Linked DNA regions of Homo sapiens: region 2 is linked to region 1. The links come from fine-mapping of genetic effects on gene expression. A gene starts in region 1. The other region holds a variant in brackets. All regions are shown on one strand. Distances are from middle to middle.

Region 1 (5,371 bases):
CCAGCAACAAGTGAGAGTTGTTCCTGTTGCTCCACATCCTTGCCAGCATTTGGTGTAGTCCGTGTTCCGGATTTGGGCAATTTTTTTTTTTTTTTTTGAGACAGGGTCTCACTCTGTCACCCAGACTGGAGTGCAGTGGTGCAATCTCAGCTCACTGCAACCTCCGCCTCCCAGGCTCAAGCAGTTCTCCTGCCTTAGCCTCTCAAGTAGCTGGGATTACAGGAATGCGCCACTATTGCCTGGCTAATTTTTGTATTTTTTAGTAGAGACGGGGTTTCACCATGTAGGCCAGGCTGGTCTTGAACTCCTGACCTCAAATGATCCACTCACCTTGGCCTTCCAAAGTGCTGGGATTACAGGCATGAGCCACCATGCCCGGCCTCTTTTTTTTTTTTTTTTTTTTTTAAACAAGAGATGGGATCTTGCTGTGTTGCCCAGGCTGGTCTCCAACTCCTGGGCTCAAGCAACCCACTCGCCTCAGCCTCCCAAAGTGCTGGGATTTCAGGCAAGGTGTGAGCCACCTTGCCCAGCCCATTTTGGCTATTCTAATAGGCATGTAGCCCTGAAGGATTTATTTATTTTATTTATTTTATTTTTTAGGCAGAGTCTTGCTCTGTCACTCTGGCTGGAGTGCAGTGTGCGATCTCAGTTCACTGCAACCTCTGCCTCCTGGGTTCAAGTGATTCTTGTGCCTCAGCCACCTGAGTAGCTGGGACTACAGGTGAGTGCTACCAAACGTGGCTAATTTTTGTATTTTTGTAGAGATGGGGTTTTGCCTTCTGAAGGATTTTAGCCTACAGAAAGTTAGGAAGAGGCTAATTCCAGAGAAAGGAAATGCGTATGACATATCCAGTGTGGCTGGAATTGATCATTGGAGCTTGGGCTTTATTCTGAAGGCCATGAGTAGCTTTTGAAGACTTTTAAATTGGAGAATGCCCTCTGTAGTGGGTTGAATGTGGCCTCCAAAAAGATATGTTCACTTGGAACCTGTGGATGTCACCTTCTTTGACAAAAGGCTTTTAGCAGCTGTAATTAAGGCAAAGCTCCTAGGAGAGAACACCCTGGATTAGGGTGGGCCATAAATCCAATGACAGGTGTCCCTGTAAGAGAAGAGAAGGATAAAGGAGATGCAGAGAAGAAGAAGAGGTAATGCAAAGATGGAGGCAGAGATTGGAATGATGTGTCTACAAGCCAAGGAGCACCAAGGATCGACGGCAGCCACCAGAAGCTAGAAGAGAGGCATGGAACAACTTCTTCCTCAGCGCCTCCAGAAGGGACCAACCCTGGCCACACTGATTTCGGACTTCTGGGCTCCAGAACTGTGAGAAAATAAATGCCTTTTTTTCCTTTTTAAAAAATTTTTATTTATTTATTTATTTATTTATTTGAGATGGAGTCTCACTCTGTTGCACAGGCTAGAGTGCAGTGGCGCAATTTTGGCTCACTGCAACCTCTGCCTCCTAGATTCAAGCGATTCTCATGTTTCAGCCTCCCGAGTAGCTGGGATTACAGGTGTTGCCACCATGTCTGGCTAATTTTTGTATTTTTAGTAGAGACGGGGTTTCACCAGGTTGGCCAGGCTGGTCTCGAACTCCTCAAGCAATCCACCTGCCTTGGCCTCCCAAAGTGCTGGGATTGCAGGCGTGAGTCACTGCACCCAGCCGAGAGAATAAATTTCTGTTGGTTTAAGCCACTCAGTTTGGGGATAACTTATGGCAGCCCTAGCAAACTAATACATACTAAAGATACATACTAAATACTAAGCTGGGCCATATAGTCCAGTTTTCCTGAGACTCCCAGGCAAGTGCTGTTTTTCTTTGCTTAATATCCTACACCACTTTCTGTCTGGTAAAATTACACTCATTCTTTAAGATGCCACTGAAATAGCACCTCTTCAGCACAGCCTTCACTAAACTATCCCCCTCTCCATCTTGGTAAATTTAGTTACTTCCTCTTCTGTGCTCACATACTTTGTAGTATCTCTACATTTATGCTATAGGACTTGTTACACTATGTTGTATTACTTGTTTATGTCTTCCCCACTTTTCTGTGAGTGTCTAGAAATATGAGGATGTCTTGTTGGTCTATTTCCAGAACATAAGCACAGTGCCTGGCACATATTAAAAACGTAATAAATGTTTGCTGAATAAATAGTTTCTGTAAGTGGCTTCTCCAATCACCTCTGTGTTTTCGGGGAAGGTAAAACTGGCAACAGGATGAAGAATGGATTAGAGAGCAGAGGGCCTTTAGAAAGGGAGGCCAGTTGATGGAGTCTAGATAGAATCATGACTAGAGCTAATGAAAGACTGATTTAGCAGAGTGGCTGTGGTAATGGAAAGGAGGAAACCGTTGGGAGAAACACCACAGAAGCAGAGTGGGTTATATTCTCTGGGTGAGAGAGGGGGAGAAATTGAAGCTGATTCTGAGGTTTCAAGTCTGGGTGACTGAGAGGGTGACGATACCATTGACTGAGGTGGGGAAGGCAGGAAGAGAAGCAGAGTTGGGGGAAGATGGGAAGCTTGAAGCTAGTATTGTTGTTCCTCCATTTCTAGAATATTTTTGTATTATAAGTCACACTTCCTCGCCAGTCTCAACAGGGACCCAGCTCAGGCAGCAGCTAAGGGTGGGTATTCTGGTTTGGATTAGATCAGAGGAAAGACAGCTGTATATGTGCCCACAGGAGCCAAGACGGTATTTTCCATCCTCCCAAAACAGTAGAGCTTTGACAGAGATTTAAGGGTGACCAAGTCAAGGAAGAGGCATGGCATAGAACGGTGATGTCGGGGGTGGGGGTTCAGAACTTCCATTATAGAAGGTAATGATTTAGAGGAGAAGGTGGTTGAGAATGGTGCTAGTGGTAGTGAACAGATCCTTCCCAGGATCTAGGTGGGCTGAGGATTTTTGAGTCTGTGACACTATTGTATATCCAGCTTTAGTTTCTGTTTACCACCTTACAGCAGCACCTAATCTCCTAGAGGACTTAGCCCGTGTCACACAGCACATATTTGCCACACCCTCTGTAAAGCCCTGGTTTATAAGGTTCTTTCCACCGGAAGCTATGACAGAGGAAACGTGTGGGTGGGGAGGGGTAGTGGGTGAGGGACCCAGGTTCCTGACACAGACAGACTACACCCAGGGAATGAAGAGCAAGCGCCATGTTGAAGCCATCATTACCATTCACATCCCTCTTATTCCTGCAGCTGCCCCTGCTGGGAGTGGGGCTGAACACGACAATTCTGACGCCCAATGGGAATGAAGACACCACAGCTGGTGGGAAATCTGGGACTGGAGGGGGCTGGTGAGAAGGGTGGCTGTGGGAAGGGGCCGTACAGAGATCTGGTGCCTGCCACTGGCCATTACAATCATGTGGGCAGAATTGAAAAGTGGAGTGGGAAGGGCAAGGGGGAGGGTTCCCTGCCTCACGCTACTTCTTCTTTCTTTCTTGTTTGTTTGTTTCTTTCTTTCTTTTGAGGCAGGGTCTCACTATGTTGCCTAGGCTGGTCTCAAACTCCTGGCCTCTAGTGATCCTCCTGCCTCAGCCTTTCAAAGCACCAGGATTACAGACATGAGCCACCGTGCTTGGCCTCCTCCTTCTGACCATCATTTCTCTTTCCCTCCCTGCCTTCATTTTCTCCCCAATCTAGATTTCTTCCTGACCACTATGCCCACTGACTCCCTCAGTGTTTCCACTCTGCCCCTCCCAGAGGTTCAGTGTTTTGTGTTCAATGTCGAGTACATGAATTGCACTTGGAACAGCAGCTCTGAGCCCCAGCCTACCAACCTCACTCTGCATTATTGGTATGAGAAGGGACGAGGGGGAGGGGATGAAGAAGAGGTGGGTTGGATCAGAGACCAAGAGAGAGGGTAGCAAGTCTCCCAGGTACCCCACTGTTTTCTCCTGGGGTAAGTCATAAGTCGGTTGAGGGGAGATGAGGCTAGGCTCTGGATATCTGCAGTACCCAGATTGGCCCCACTGTTCCTCTTCCTTCCAACCTTTCTCCTCTAGGTACAAGAACTCGGATAATGATAAAGTCCAGAAGTGCAGCCACTATCTATTCTCTGAAGAAATCACTTCTGGCTGTCAGTTGCAAAAAAAGGAGATCCACCTCTACCAAACATTTGTTGTTCAGCTCCAGGACCCACGGGAACCCAGGAGACAGGCCACACAGATGCTAAAACTGCAGAATCTGGGTAATTTGGAAAGAAAGGGTCAAGAGACCAGGGATACTGTGGGACATTGGAGTCTACAGAGTAGTGTTCTTTTATCATAAGGGTACATGGGCAGAAAAGAGGAGGTAGGGGATCATGATGGGAAGGGAGGAGGTATTAGGGGCACTACCTTCAGGATCCTGACTTGTCTAGGCCAGGGGAATGACCACATATGCACACATATCTCCAGTGATCCCCTGGGCTCCAGAGAACCTAACACTTCACAAACTGAGTGAATCCCAGCTAGAACTGAACTGGAACAACAGATTCTTGAACCACTGTTTGGAGCACTTGGTGCAGTACCGGACTGACTGGGACCACAGCTGGACTGTGAGTGACTAGGGACGTGAATGTAGCAGCTAAGGCCAAGAAAGTAGGGCTAAAGGATTCAACCAGACAGATAGAAGGACCTAATATCAAGCTCCTGTTCTCTGCCTCCCAGCTTCTCTGCTCACCCCCTACCCTCCCTCCTCCAACTCCTTTCCCCCCTATTTTCTCCAGTGAGTTTTCTTTTTTTCTTTTCTTTTCTTTCTTTCTTTCTTTTTTTTTTTTTTTTGAGACAGAGCCTCACTCTGTTGCCCAGGCTTGAGTGCAGTGGGGCGATCTTGGGCTCACTGCGACCTCTGTCTCCCTGGTTCAAGTGATTCTCCTGCTTCAGCCTCCCAAGTAGCTGGGAGCATGCACAACCATGCCTGGCTAATTTTTGTATTTTTAGTAAAGACAGGGTTTTGCCATGTTGGTCAGGCTGGTCTTGAACTCCTGACCTCAGGTGATCTGCCCACCTCGGCCTCCCAAAGTGCTGGGATTACAGGCGTGAGCCACCATTCCTGACACCAGTGAGTTTTCATTAGGGATTCCCTACCCATACTCTTCCTGATACCAGATAGACAAGTAAACAAAAGGAAGCCATTAAGGGGATCCAGAGGGGAGGCATTAGATTCAAGTCAGTGAAGGGAGCAGTGTGGCTTGAGTAGTCAAGAGATGAGAGAGAAACTGGGCAGTAGCAGAGATGACACTGGTGGGTGTTCAGGAGTATGTTTTAATTCTCCCTTCTCTCATAGACACCCACTTTCCCTCATCCTCTTTCTCCTCAAGGAACAATCAGTGGATTATAGACATAAGTTCTCCTTGCCTAGTGTGGATGGGCAGAAACGCTACACGT
Region 2 (5,371 bases), 110 kb before region 1:
CTTCCACCTCAGCCTCCCAAGTAGGTGGGACCACAGGTGTGCCACTGCACCTGGCAGTACCTGGTCAATCTGTCTCAGTCTTCAATCCCCAATCCAGTCTCCATGCAGCTGCTGGCTGACCTTCCAAACACACAAGTTTGAAGGTATCACCCCCGTCATACCTTTTTTTTTTTTTTGAGACAGAGTCGCTCTGTCACCCAGGCTGGAGTGCAGTGGCATGATCTCGGCTCATTGCAACCTCTGCCTCCCAGGTTCAAGCGATTCTTATGCCTCAGCCTCCCAAGTAGCTGAGATTACAGGCGTGCGCCACCACACGGGGCTAATTTTTGTATTTTTGGTAGAGACGGGGTTTCACCATGTTGGCCAGGCTGGTCTCAAACTCCTGACCTCAAGTGATCCACCTGCCTCGGCCTCCCAAAGTGCTGGGATTACAGGCGTGAGCCACCGTGCCTGGCTTTTTTTTTTTTTTTTTTTTTTTTTTGTGATGGAGTCTCACTCACTCTGTCACTCAGGCTGGAGTGCAGTGGCGCGATCTCGGCTCACTGCAACCTCCACCTCCCGGATTCAAGCAATTCTCCCACCTCAGCCTCCTGAGTAGCTGGGACTATGGGCATGTGCCACCACGCCTGGCTAATTTTTGTATTTTTAGTAGAGACAGTGTTTCACCATGTTGGCCAGGATGGTCTCGAACTCCTGGCTTCAAGTGATCTGCCTGCTTTGGCTTCCCAAATTGCTGGGATTACAGGCAACAGCCACTGTGCCCAGCCAATTCCTGTCATATCTGTAGGGTATTTTTTGTCTGTTTTATTTGCCCCTTGCTGGAATGTCCCAATCCATTTTCCATTTGACCCTGTACATTCTCCCTGGCCTACTCCAGGAATCAACAGGAGCTTAGCTTGGTACGATTGTGTAGCCCCTTCTGCACCATAGGCCAGGTCTGGCATTTAAGTACTTTGGAATCAGTAAATGGAGCAAGCATTCCCCTCTAGCCCCCACTGTGTGCACCCAGGCTATCTGATTGAACATCTGAACCAGTTTGTGGTTGCCATGCCAATTCTCTATGGATACCACAGCTTGCTTTCAAACCCCAACTCAGCTGGCTGGAGGCCTTGATTACTCTCCTAGTTCATCTGCCTCTGTTCCTTTGCCCCCCAGCTCCTGGCATCTCTGTGCATAGACACCTCTAAAAGATCATAGACATTCCTAAAAGGACCAGTTCCATGAGATACAGCATGCAAGAGCTTCCTGTTACTATGCCTTTTCTGCCCCCTGATCAGACCCCTTGAATATTGACCCTTAAATGAATCATGCTCAGGTTTGCAACCTCTCTTGGACTTTGCTGTTTGGACTGGTGTCCACTCCCTGGGGGAGCCAACACTATTATTGCCAAATTGTTTTAACTAGCTTCAGCCTACCTGAACCAGCCTCACTCCTTTCTGGCTCATTGAGAATTCTAGCATGTCGTAAGGCCATGGTCTCAGTGCTTATGATACTATCTTACCTTACTTTACCGTTAGTTCATAACCAGCTTTTGAACACATCTTGTCTGATTCTCAAAAAAGTTCTGTGAAAGAGGTAGAGAGGTTATTATTAACTCTCTATTGGAGATGAGGAAACAGACCTGGAGAGGGTAAATATCACGTGTCCAAGGGGACAGAGCTCATCAGTGGAGAACGAGGTCTCCTAATTCCAGTGTCCTCTTCATAACCCAGGTCACTCAGCACATTGAATTTCTACTGCGTGGCAGAGAGCATGCCTCATTTGCCTCTGTGTCTCTCTCTTATACTCTTGTGACAGAGCCTGATTTGAAAAGTCAGTCTTGGAGTCAGTCTAACTCTGCCTCCTACCTCCCTGAGACATTGTGTCCACCAGCTCCCCTCAAGGTTCCTTGGGCCTGTTCCTACCTGGTTCATGGGACCCAAGAATCCTGTGTCCCCCACTTGGGCTGTAACACCCAGCCTGATAGCTTTATTGTCCCACCACTGCCCCCTGGAGAGGAAAGCCTTGATATAGAGTTGGAGCCTCTTTCCAAGGGGGATTGGTAGAATCTTTGAAGAGAAACTACATTTCTGATGTGATGGTGGGGGTTAGCATTTCTCAATGTGGAGAGGGCATGAGGTTCCCTGCTTCCGACCAGGACCAGGATGGAATTTTAAAAAGAAAATCTTTCTCCTGATGGCATGTTGTATGGAGAGGGGATGTGTTTGTTGTATTGTTGTGGGTGAAAAGGATGGATTTCGATAAGAAAAGGAATCTCTCTCACCGTGAGGGGGTGGGGACCTCTCCTCTGATGGAACATAATGTCAGTTTCTAAGGGGAAAGGAAATTTCTTGTAGGAAAGGAATGTTCCTCTTTTAAGGGAGAGGAAGCTCTCTCTCAGGGATTACTAAGTGTGGTGGAAAGGAATACTTACTCTCTCCTTTCTTTCTTTCAATTTTTTAAAAATAGAGATGGGAGGCCGGGCGCGGTTGCTCACACCTGTAATCCCAGCTCTTTGGGAGGCCGAGGCGGGCAGATCACGAGGTCAGGAGATTGAGACCATCCTGGCTAACACAGTGAAACCCCGTCTCTACTAAAAATACAAAAAAAAATTAGCCGGGCGTGGTGGCGGGCGCCTATTGTCCCAGCTACTCGGGAGGCTGAGGCAGGAGAACAGCGTGAACCCGGGAGGTGGAGCTTGCAGTGAGCCGAGATCGCGCCACTGTACTCCAGCCTGGGTGACAGAGCGAGACTCCGTCTCAAAAAAAAAAAAAATAGAGATAGGATCTTGCTATGCTGTCCAGGCTAGTCTTGAACTCCTGGCCTCATGCAATCCTCTTGCTTCGGCCTCTAAAGGTCTCATTTCCTTCCCTCCCTCCCTCCCTCTCTCCCTCCCTCCCTTCCTTCCTTCCTTCCTTTTCTTTCTTTGTTTCTTTCTTGACAAGGTCTCACTCTCTGGCCCGGGCTGGAGTGCAGTGGCGTGATCACAGCTGACTGCAGCCTCAACCTCCTCCTGGGCTCGAGTTATCCTCCCACCTCAGCATCCGAAATAGCTTGGGACTACAGGCACATGCCACCACACCTGACTAATTGTTTTATTTTATTTTTTTTGTAGAGATGGGGTCTCTCTATGTTGCTCAGACTGGTCTCAAACTCATGGGCTCAAGTGATTCTCTCCCCTTGGCCTTCCAAAGTGCTGGGACTACAGGCATGAGCCACCACATCCAGTCTTCCTTTTTTTTTTTTCTAAAGGAGAAATCTCAAATAAAGAAAACTTCCATGCTTTCTCTCCAAAGAGGAAAAACTGTCTCAAGGGAGAACAATTCACATG[AGATTGT/T]GTCTGATTTTCTCTCCCTTTCTGATATCCAGCACTTCCTACATGGAGTCCACATACTCTGAGAGGGAGTGGCAAATAATTTCTCCTGTTCGGAGGTAAGGAAGCTGAGGAGGCAAACTTGCCATGGGGGAAACTTTTACTCTGAGAGGCTATTTGTGGGGGCAGTGACTCTAAGGAAACCCCTGTGAGGCTGGGGGAAGATAATGCACTGTTACTTGGGGAAATCTTTCAGGAATCCCAGAAGCACAGAGTGTTGAAGGGAGCTGAGAGATGTGCTGGGCCAGTTCTCGTTTGCTCATAAGGAAGCTGAGGTTCGGGGAAGGGAATGCCCCGCTACTAAGTGACAGCATCAGGACTCCAGCGCAGCTTTTCCAAGTCTCAGCCTGGGGCATTTCCTACCACAGCTGACAGGGGAGGGTGATGCTGGTGAGGAAACTGCTGCTATGAAATGTTTGACCTGTGTGGAGGCATCTCTGGAGTGGGAAGCATTGATTCCTGAGAGAAGGAAACTGGGAAAGAGGATGAAATTAGGGGCTCTGTCCAGCTGAAAGGGGTCAGGGTCATCGTGCAACCCAACAGGTGGACTGTGGGACATCAGCTTGTAGGGGATGCTGAGTTTGGAGGGAGTAAGGAGATAGGTCTCCAGATGTGCGGGGGAGGGGCTCTCACCGAGGTACCCAGGGAATTGTGCCACTCTCTGGGGCAGGAGAAATTTCCCAATCATTTCTTGTCTCTTCAGAGGGAGTTGTCATTTTTAATCTTTTCAAAATCAGAGGAAGGAGGTATGTAAACTAAATCCCAATAAAGCTGTTATTAGACAATGAAAAAGACAAGAACCACAACAACAAAAGCAACAGGGAGGAATGGCTCCGGGGCTGGCTCTGCGGCCCAGAAGTACAGTGATTTCCTCATTTGCAGCTTCAGCTACTCAAGTAACTACTTCTTTTGCCCTGTTCCTTTCTTAATCAGTAAAAAACCAAGGCCAGCTCATCCTGGGGGAGGTCAGAGGTTGCAGGAGAAAGAACTTGACAAACACACAAGCCACCTCTTCATTTACTGTAAAATCCTGTTTAATGTGTAACATTTCAGGCAGAGAGAGGCCTTGGGGACTAGAGGCAGAGGTGGCCTTGACCAACCCCTGCTCCAACTTATCTGCCTGCTTCTCTCTCCCTAACTCCCTCACCCCAGACACCTCCTCCTTTTCCTTGTGGCCAGCAAGCACTATTCCTCCTTTACTAGTGCTGGCCACCCTCCCTTCTCCACCCACATGTCCACAGCACCCCTGCCCTCTGCTCCTCTTACCCACATCCCTCCTCACTGATGTGACTCCAGAAACAGGGTATCTGACAGCACAGGGTTAAGATTAGTTTCATAATTGGAGACGCTGTCGGAGCATCCCATCTCTTGTACCCAGTGGTCCCAGAGAGAGGGAGAGGGAAGAGGGAAGGGTGCAGGCAACAAGGGCAGCCCACACTCCCAGTAACCTTGAGCACTGGCATAGGTGGCCTCTAGCTCCCCACCCCTCCAGCTCCTCAAAAGGAAGGCCCCGGGAGGAAGGGAAGTAGCCAGGGAAGGAAGGTTTTGATCGAGTAATCCCCAGCAGGCAGAGGCCTGTGCACCGGCAGGGGAGAAGGAGGGGCTCGCCCAGGGCAGGGTCGGGGGTGGGATGGGAGGTTGCCTGGTATGTGGCATCAGCAGGCCGAGCAGCGGTCGCTCTTTTCAGCCAGCCCAGCCCCGGTGCCAGGGCTGCGGCGCAGTATGTCTTTCAGGGAGCCATCCTGCTCACTCAGCAGCTTGTTGATCTCATTCTGCTTGTATTCAGGTGAGAGGCGGTGGCCGAAGCCCGAGCCCTTGCGGGAAGGTGGATTGGAGCGGCGCTGGGCTCGGCGGGCACAGGCCCGGATGATGAGGTACACCACCTCGGCCACATTGAGGATGATGCAGATGCCAGAGGCAGCTAGCATGAAGACGGTGAAGACGGTTTTCTCGGTGGGGCGGGACACGAAGCAGTCCACTGTGTTGGGGCAGGGGTAGACGTCGCACTTGACCAGCCGC

Which allele goes with the higher level. Alleles are on the strand shown, and positions count from the first base shown. SD is a standard deviation of normalised expression in the study named.
In carriers of allele T in region 2, the expression in coronary artery of the gene that starts at base 3,118 in region 1 tends to be lower than with AGATTGT alone (moderate effect, 0.52 SD a copy in GTEx).

What was found.
Region 2: its variant is fine-mapped to the expression of IL2RG in coronary artery (GTEx, PIP above 0.99).

What each region holds. Positions count from the first base shown.
Region 1 is chrX:71,109,324-71,114,694 of GRCh38, reverse strand. It overlaps IL2RG (interleukin 2 receptor subunit gamma), which reads left to right and starts at 3,118. Exons shown (of 8, transcript NM_000206.3): 1 at 3,118-3,270; 2 at 3,645-3,798; 3 at 4,007-4,191; 4 at 4,400-4,539; 5 at 5,305-5,371. The coding sequence starts at 3,156. RefSeq lists enhancers at 2,966-3,355, 2,458-3,657.
Region 2 is chrX:71,224,196-71,229,566 of GRCh38, reverse strand. GJB1 (gap junction protein beta 1) reads right to left here. Exons shown (of 2, transcript NM_000166.6): 2 at 4,051-5,371. The coding sequence ends at 5,008. Among named protein-coding and RNA genes, the nearest start is that of GJB1, 3.7 kb to the right of the region's middle. The variant AGATTGT/T (reference allele first, on the strand shown) is at 3,311.